Regions from separate parts of the Homo sapiens genome. Here all the other regions are linked to region 2. Evidence: fine-mapped expression QTL. A gene starts in region 2. Each other region holds a variant in brackets. All regions are shown on one strand. Distances are between the middles of the regions.

The links. PIP is the estimated chance that this variant, and not a neighbour inherited with it, causes the effect.
Region 1: its variant is the best candidate, but not a certain one, in a credible set for the expression of FHIP1B in whole blood (TOPMed, PIP 0.61).
Region 3: its variant is the best candidate, but not a certain one, in a credible set for the expression of FHIP1B in prefrontal cortex (BrainSeq, PIP 0.69).

Annotation. Positions count from the first base shown.
Region 1 is chr11:6,197,611-6,200,275 of GRCh38, forward strand. It overlaps OR52W1 (olfactory receptor family 52 subfamily W member 1), which reads left to right and starts at 1,614. Exons shown (of 1, transcript NM_001005178.1): 1 at 1,614-2,576. The coding sequence starts at 1,614. The coding sequence ends at 2,576. RefSeq lists enhancers at 1,428-1,928, 1,929-2,429. The variant T/C (reference allele first, on the strand shown) is at 1,593.
Region 2 is chr11:6,233,174-6,235,826 of GRCh38, forward strand. It overlaps FHIP1B (FHF complex subunit HOOK interacting protein 1B), which reads right to left and starts at 1,463. Exons shown (of 12, transcript NM_001098794.2): 1 at 1,371-1,463. It also overlaps a transcript of CNGA4 not described here. RefSeq lists silencers at 1,138-1,187, 1,368-1,667 and enhancers at 1,710-2,400, 1,798-1,877.
Region 3 is chr11:6,209,193-6,211,999 of GRCh38, forward strand. It overlaps C11orf42 (chromosome 11 open reading frame 42), which reads left to right. Exons shown (of 3, transcript NM_173525.3): 2 at 658-1,456; 3 at 1,720-1,943. The coding sequence ends at 1,850. FHIP1B (FHF complex subunit HOOK interacting protein 1B) reads right to left here. Exons shown (of 12, transcript NM_001098794.2): 12 at 2,153-2,675. The coding sequence ends at 2,314. Among named protein-coding and RNA genes, the nearest start is that of C11orf42, 5.0 kb to the left of the region's middle. The variant A/AG (reference allele first, on the strand shown) is at 1,665.

The sequences.
Region 1 (2,665 bases), 36 kb before region 2:
GCTCCTGAAACTGTAGGAGCCCCTATTAGTCAGCAAAAGCTGTTTGGACTAGCAGTCTGTCCCACACTTAAAAGCAATATATATTTATTCATAGCTAACTACATGCCAGACATTGTGGTAAGCAGTAGAGACACTGTAGCTAATAAAAAGCAATATCTGCAACTCTTTTTGTCTCGTGGGGAATTGAGAGACAAGAAATTACAACAGAGTGGGCTAGATGCTATTAAAGAATAAACCAAGGAATTTTCTCCCGGACTTCAGTGAGCCAGCAAAGACCTCCCTGAGAAAGTGTTCCTTGCCCAGATCTTTCCACCTGATAGTCTCTTTCCTGGCTTGCCCCCATCTCTGCCTCCTTACTCTACTTCCTGAGTCACCAGCCCATCAGCACTGAGCAAAGAGATACAAAACAGAGTTAATGTGGCACAGGTGGGAGGGAGAAAGGCCCTGAGGGAAGCAGGTAGAACAGCCACATAAAGAGCCCCACAGGCACTGATTAAAGCGAAGAGAAGCTGCCAACACACAGTGCTCGAGATCTTTCCCAGTCAAGCCTTCTGCTGGTGATTTCTTCCTCATTCATTTATCCATTCAACATGTATTAAGCTTCTTAGGTGGGCTGGATCCCACCTAAGTCAATCTACTTGTCCTGCCTCCTCCAATGTCAGAGATGCTTCTTCCTCAGATGGCTGCTACTCTGAGTTGAGTGCCATTTTCTCCCTCTATGTCACCTCCACTCGCTCTGGCATGCCAGGAATGAGACTCTAGTGGGACCCACTTTTGTACCGTGAAGAAGGAAAGGAAACGGAGAAGAAAAGTCCCGTTTCGTACTGCCATCTCTCTCTCTGTTGCTTCCCAGCCCCAACTTCAACTCTCCAGCTGGTGTTCAGCATCAAGTTCAGAACGTAAGCACCCTGCACCCCAAAAACCCAGCAAGTTTTCCCTTGCCACACCAAGCTCCCAGATTCACTCCAGATTCCATCTGCCTCCCACTACGGTTTCTCCCTTTCTTTATACTCTGCCTCCTCTCTTCCTGGATGGTTGGTGCTGAGAATGGGCAATTGCTCAGAGCTGGGCAAACCTTAATATCACTGTACCCACCAGGCCTATACAGCTGAAGAAGCTGAGGTCCAGAGATCTTGCCCAAGGATACACAGGCAGGGACAGGACAGCCGGAAGCCTGATTCCCCACCCTGCCCCCAGCACTGGCTTTCTCCTCATATAGAGACTGAGACTGACTCTATTTGGACCCTGAGGAAGAAAAGTATTCATCTCCACTCCACCCTCTGCTGACATCCAATTAGAAGGCTCTCTCAGGCTATCTATACCAACCACTGCAGCAGGCAGCCTCTTCCTCACTACCCCTTCCTCCCACTACAATACATATAGACTTTTAGGAGCAAAGGATTCTCCTATCTTAGCTAGAATTGCGACCTTAATTATCCATCCAAACCCCCCTAACCAAAAGTTATAAACCTGTGATCCTCCCAGCCCTGCACTACTCCTACACGTATGCCATGGATGGGTTTGTGCCACTGTGAGACCCCCAAAATCTCTCCCCTTATCTTCCCTGTCAGGAGTCATGCCCCCATGAGCCC[T/C]CAAGTTGTGCCCACCACAGAATGGCAGAAACTCTACAACTCAATTCCACCTTCCTACACCCAAACTTCTTCATACTGACTGGCTTTCCAGGGCTAGGAAGTGCCCAGACTTGGCTGACACTGGTCTTTGGGCCCATTTATCTGCTGGCCCTGCTGGGCAATGGAGCACTGCCGGCAGTGGTGTGGATAGACTCCACACTGCACCAGCCCATGTTTCTACTGTTGGCCATCCTGGCAGCCACAGACCTGGGCTTAGCCACATCTATAGCCCCAGGGTTGCTGGCTGTGCTGTGGCTTGGGCCCCGATCTGTGCCATATGCTGTGTGCCTGGTCCAGATGTTCTTTGTACATGCACTGACTGCCATGGAATCAGGTGTGCTTTTGGCCATGGCCTGTGATCGTGCTGCGGCAATAGGGCGTCCACTGCACTACCCTGTCCTGGTCACCAAAGCCTGTGTGGGTTATGCAGCCTTGGCCCTGGCACTGAAAGCTGTGGCTATTGTTGTACCTTTCCCACTGCTGGTGGCAAAGTTTGAGCACTTCCAAGCCAAGACCATAGGCCATACCTATTGTGCACACATGGCAGTGGTAGAACTGGTGGTGGGTAACACACAGGCCACCAACTTATATGGTCTGGCACTTTCACTGGCCATCTCAGGTATGGATATTCTGGGTATCACTGGCTCCTATGGACTCATTGCCCATGCTGTGCTGCAGCTACCTACCCGGGAGGCCCATGCCAAGGCCTTTGGTACATGTAGTTCTCACATCTGTGTCATTCTGGCCTTCTACATACCTGGTCTCTTCTCCTACCTCACACACCGCTTTGGTCATCACACTGTCCCAAAGCCTGTGCACATCCTTCTCTCCAACATCTACTTGCTGCTGCCACCTGCCCTCAACCCCCTCATCTATGGGGCCCGCACCAAGCAGATCAGAGACCGACTCCTGGAAACCTTCACATTCAGAAAAAGCCCGTTGTAATGTCCAGTGGTAACAATGGAGCCTAAGAGTGGAGGTGAGGGGACAATCGGAGGGGAGTCTGGGGGTGTGGATCATGTTATTTTCATCCC
Region 2 (2,653 bases):
TGGCTCTGAAGCTAAGACTCTGGAAAAGAATGGGGACTGAGGCTGTCTAATTCTCAGGAAATGGTCTCTCCCTGTCCACTGTAGAGTTAAGGAAAGACTTAACTCTTTCTGAGTCTGGAAAGAATAGGATGTCCCAACCCCATGGCTGACTAGCAGTAGAGAGGAAAATTTAGTAGTGTGAAAGTGGCCATTATCACTGAATGCCAAACCAACTTTCCAGAATTTCACGTGCATTTGGGTTGGTGGGGAGAAGAGGACCTAAAAGAATGCTAGTAAGATGAACCCAACTACAGGGTGTGGAGAGGAAGAGATAAATTTTCAGGTGGCTAAAATGTTCAGTATCTTGAGACTGATGATGATTTCACAGATGTGTACACATGTCAAAACTCATCAAACACACATTTTAAATATAATATAAACTAGCTTTTTAAAAAATTCAACTGTAAGAAAGGAGAGTAAGGCCATCCTGTTTGGGATCCTAAATATAGTACTGTATAGGGCAAACCATATGACCTCCATAAAAGTAGAATTAGCAACTGAATATGGTCAATCCAATCAAAGACCCACAGTTAAGCACAGGTAAGGAGCAACAGTGGAATAAGGTTGTCCAGAAGCAAGTAGAGAGAAAACACAAGCTGTCACAGCGCAAAACCCTTCATGAGAGGGCCCATCTTCAACTATGCAGTCCAGAGAAGGAACTCGAAGGAACTGAAGTTTCTGTGATTACTCTGTTGAAGTCTGAGCCTCAAATATGACTTTCATTACCATAGTACTATTGCCTATGACACCTTCATTTTCTCGTCCTCCAGAATATGGAAAGTCCATGGGAGCAGAGGAGTCAGGTGCACAACACTTCCATCTAAGCTGCCCTACTTTGTCTAAAACTATTGCTCTCACTGGACAGGGCAGTCCATCGAAGGAGGCCTCAGAACCAACCTCTCACCTTTATCCAAGTCTCACAAGCCCTAATTCCCTCCTCCCATGCCTCGCCTTCAACTCCCTCACCAATTTGCCGCCACCCCGCAGGCTCCCACCTGCGCCTTTTACTCTCTCTCTCCTCGCGCAGGCCTTACCCCTCACTCTAGTCCCAGGGTATCCTTCACACCAGCCCTCAGTAGCCCCAGCCCTAGTAAACCGCGTTCAGGAGTCCCTTCAACTTGGCACCTCCGAAAGCACCCAGCCTCTCACAGCCCCTCATTTGTCCACTCACCTGTAAGCTCTCACCCTCCTTCCCTATCTTAGACACTCACACCCGGACCCTCACCACCTGCCAACCCCTCACAACCAGTACAGTAACCAAACCCGTCACCGTCTTTTCCCAGTCTCTCATCCCCACAAACGACTCTCCAGGCCCTCTGGCCCATGCGTACCGTTCACTCACGGAACGCCGAACCTGGCCGGGCCCGGTTGCTGCTGCGGTGTTAGGTGAGTTCAGGCCGCCGCCATCGCTTCTCAAGCGCACCAGCCGCGCCCCGCCCCGCGCCACACGCAGCCCGCGCCCCCGCGCACCACACGCAACCGCCCGGCGTCGCACGACTGGGCAATGGCGTGCCAGCTCATTGGCTGAGCCGGACCAAACCCGAGCAAGGACGCTTGTTTCCTGGCAACGGCTAAACGCAAGGGCGGGGTCGCCGACGGCTATCCGAGGGAGGAGCACCGCCTCTCCTCTTGGTTCCGTCCCTTCGTACGTAAACCCCGCCCCTCAGAAGGACTCCGGCGTGTCATAGGCGAAGGCCTCTGGGAAGGTGGAGGCCGGCAGGGCGGAGGCGGAGCCCGGGAAGGAAAGGTGGAACCAGAGGGCAGAAGGCGGGACCTAAGGAGAGGCGATTTTTACAGGCAGGGAAAGATCAGAAGGGCGGGGCTTGGGAGAGATGGAGCCGGAAGAAAGACGAGCGAGAAAGGGGTGGGGCCATGGATTCCAGGAGACGCTTGGAGTGGAAGAGTGGGTGTGGAGGGGCGAGGCTATCACGAAAAGAGAGGAGGAATCAGTAGGTGGGCCGGGCCTGCGGAAAAGTGGAGCCCTAGAGAGGGCTGACTGCGGGCACTCTAGTTCATTTTGCTCCATCGTCGTGCATAGCTTGGTCTCTACTTTAGTACCCCAGCGGTGACTGCCCCTGGCTCCCCCAACACCGCTGTGCTGTGCTGCTCCGTCACCCCTTGAGCACTTAGTCAAGGAACACGGAATAAGTGCCTGCATGCCCAGCTGGATTCCGGATCAATTAGAACCGGCCTCTGCTCTCCAGGACCTCAGAGAATTGCAGCGTAGTGTAATAAGTACATTACTACGGGGGCCACCTAGGAGCAGCACTTAGCATGATTTGCATGTATAGAGGATGAGAGGAAGGTACGGTGAAGGAGCTTAGGGAAGACTTCCGGGAGGTGACGGTGTCTAAGCCGAGTCTTGGGAAACAAGCAAGAGTAAGATAAACTAAAATAGAAAAATAGAAGTTTCAGATAAGGCATGTAGTTTTAAAAGTACTTTACCGGCTGGGCGCGGTGGCTCACGCCTGTAATCCCAGCACTTTGAGAGGCCGAGGCGGGCGGATCACGAGGTCAAGAGTTCGAGACCAGCCTGACCAACATAGTGAAACCCCGTCCCTACTACAAATACAAAAATTAACTGGGCGTAGTGGCGCGCGCCTGTAATCCCAGC
Region 3 (2,807 bases), 24 kb before region 2:
AAATTAGCTTTCAGAAACACCTATCTGATCCTGTTCCTCCTACCCAGAGGCCTTCAGGCGGCTTCCCACTGCCTTCAGGACAAAATTCACTTGACATACACACAAGCCTTTCATAATCTAGTTCCTGTGTGCCTTTCCCTCCTCATACCATACATACCAGCAATATAAAATTATGTGTTCCTAAATGTGCCCCCCTTGATTTGTAAATTCAAGTTTTTTCACCGACTCTTATGCCTGAATTGACCATTCTCCTACCTAGATAATTGCTTCAAAACTCAAGTATCACCATCTAGAAACCTTCCTTGATCCTCTTTCCATGAAAGGTAAAGACTGTTCAATCACTTCCTGTCTCCTTCACACCTTGCTCTCTATTAATATTTTACATAGCAGACTGTTTACATTTTTGTGTTCTCCAGTAGACTAAACTATATTAGGACAAAGACAAAGTCTCATTCTTTTATGTTTTCCCAGTACTTAGATAGTTTGACACGTAAACATTCAAGGTTTTGCTGCCGGAGAGCTGGGAGGTAAGCAGAAAGCATAAATCTGAACACATTATAGAGATGTAACTGAACGTGAACCTGGGGGTCAATTTAAAGTAGGCAACCAGTTAACTTCTGACCCTAAGTCCCTGACCTATAAACTGGCCACCTGCAGGTCATCGAGGAGCACTTTGGGCCCAATGCAGTAGCAGTACCTTTCCTGTCAGATGCAGCCTGCTATGACCTACTGGGTGTGCTGGTAAAACAGTCCCGCCCAGCCCATACCCGCCTGGCTTTGCCAGGTCGGCAGGGCCGGAGGGCACTGAAACCAGTGGGGCCACTACCAAGCCTCCTGGAGCAGGCAGGATCTGAGGGTGCCTTCGCCCACTGCACTCGGGAATACTCACCAAATGGCCGAGCAGAGAGAGCCTATGAAGAGACGCGAATGTTGGATGGACAGCCCTGCAAGATCCGCCTACATATGGGTGACCTGCGCAAGAAGGTTGCCTTCCTGTTGCTGCCACCAGGGCAGGTGAGCCTACAGCAGACTCTTCCCTGGCTCCGAAGCACCCACAGCATCTATGTCATCTACCAGGTCTTCTCTTGTTCCTGGCTGCAGCTGGGGCTGACGTCTACAGCCCGTGAGCCCCAGCTCCTCCGGCTACTTCGGTCATTACCTGTTGCCTTCTCCTGCCTCAAGTTTTCACTGCAGTCTAAGGGCGTGCTGGGACCACAGAAGCCTCTCACTAAAGACCCATTGCCCCATGGGGCCAACTGGGTCAGACCCAACCTCAGCATCATGCCGCCTCTGGCCCCCACATCAGCACCTGCTGATACAACTGAAGCTGCTGATGTGCCCCCACCTGTCCCAGCCCCACCTACGCCACCTCCCCAGGAAGGGCCAGAGGACAAACCCACCAGATTCTCCTACAAGGGCCGAAACCCCTTCTGGAGGGGGCCCCAGATACTGTCAGGTACTACTAGGGGAAATGATGATGAGATGGATGGGAGGGACAAAGTGAAGGAGGGAGAAGGCATGAGAATTAAGTATGTGAGGAATCCATTACTCAGCACAGGGCTCTGGTGAAAGAGATGGAATGAGGGAGACTGGGGAGGGTGAGATGGAATGAGGAGGCCCTAGGAAGGGGATTGGGATGGCACAGAGGACCAGAGGGAAAAGCT[A/AG]GGGGGGGAAAAGACCAGCCATGAGTCAAGCTGTGACTATCCCCAACCCTGGCAGAGAACTGGCTCTTCAGCCCCCGCAGCCCTCCACCAGGAGCCCAGGGTGGGGGCCCCAGGGACCCCGACGGGCACTCCATGTCCCTGCCCCTGCTGCAGGGTCTATCCTCAGAGTTCGACAGTGACGACTGAAGCTGAAGCAAAAGATTCCGGGGGCAAAGCCCCCAAGATCTGGCATAGGGGTACTGGTCTCTAATAAACATCAGCTGCTGCTCCCCCAAACCATCCTGGGCCCATGCTGCTTATTCCTTCTGGGATCCAGAGAAGAGGGAAGAGTCCCTTCACCCTCTAAGGGCATAAGGGGTACCTTGAAACCTTGGCAGCAATGTCCTTACCAAAGAGAAAATACTTCTGACCACCTCCCCGACTATGTACAACCTTTTCTGGGGCCCCAGCCCCACAGAAAAAAATGGGAAAGAAAAATGAGCACAGAATAGAGATTTCCCTTTTATACATATTGCAACAAGTTCTCCATAAAACATTCATCTGAAATAAATTAAAAAGTCCTTTTGCCACTGCCTCCAAACATAAAAAGGAGCCTGTGCCCTAGCCCCAGCCCGGGCCACCCATGGCCCTGATTGTCCATGGAAGAAAGTTAAGGATTGAGGGGCCCACAGCCTGAGATGAGAGGGCCAGATCCTTCCTCTGAAGTCTCCAACAAGAAAGGCGAGGTGACGGCATGAGCCTGGGAGATGGCAGCCAACTCCTTGAGAAATTCAGGGAAAATGACTGCACAGTAGACAGCATTCTTGACTCGAAGAGCCTCACCTTGGCGTTCAGGGGCCCCGCCCCGGGTGAGTAGAACTGGAGTTGAAGCCCCAGGGGAGCCCCCACTTAGGCCAAGTCCTGCTCCGTCTCGCCCAGGCTGAAGGACCAATTGTGCCGCCTGCCGGGCCCTGGTTGGACTGTGTGCATGCCGCAGGAGTAACTCCCCCAAGGATGGCCTCCGGCTCTTCACTGGGAATAAACAGGGGTATCATGAAGGTGCTGGGATCAGGGAACCTCCCTTGGACTGAGAGGGGAGATTCCCCCACCCCCTAGGTTCTTGGACTTCTCCTTTAGGGTTCTGAGGAAATGGAAAAAAGGACA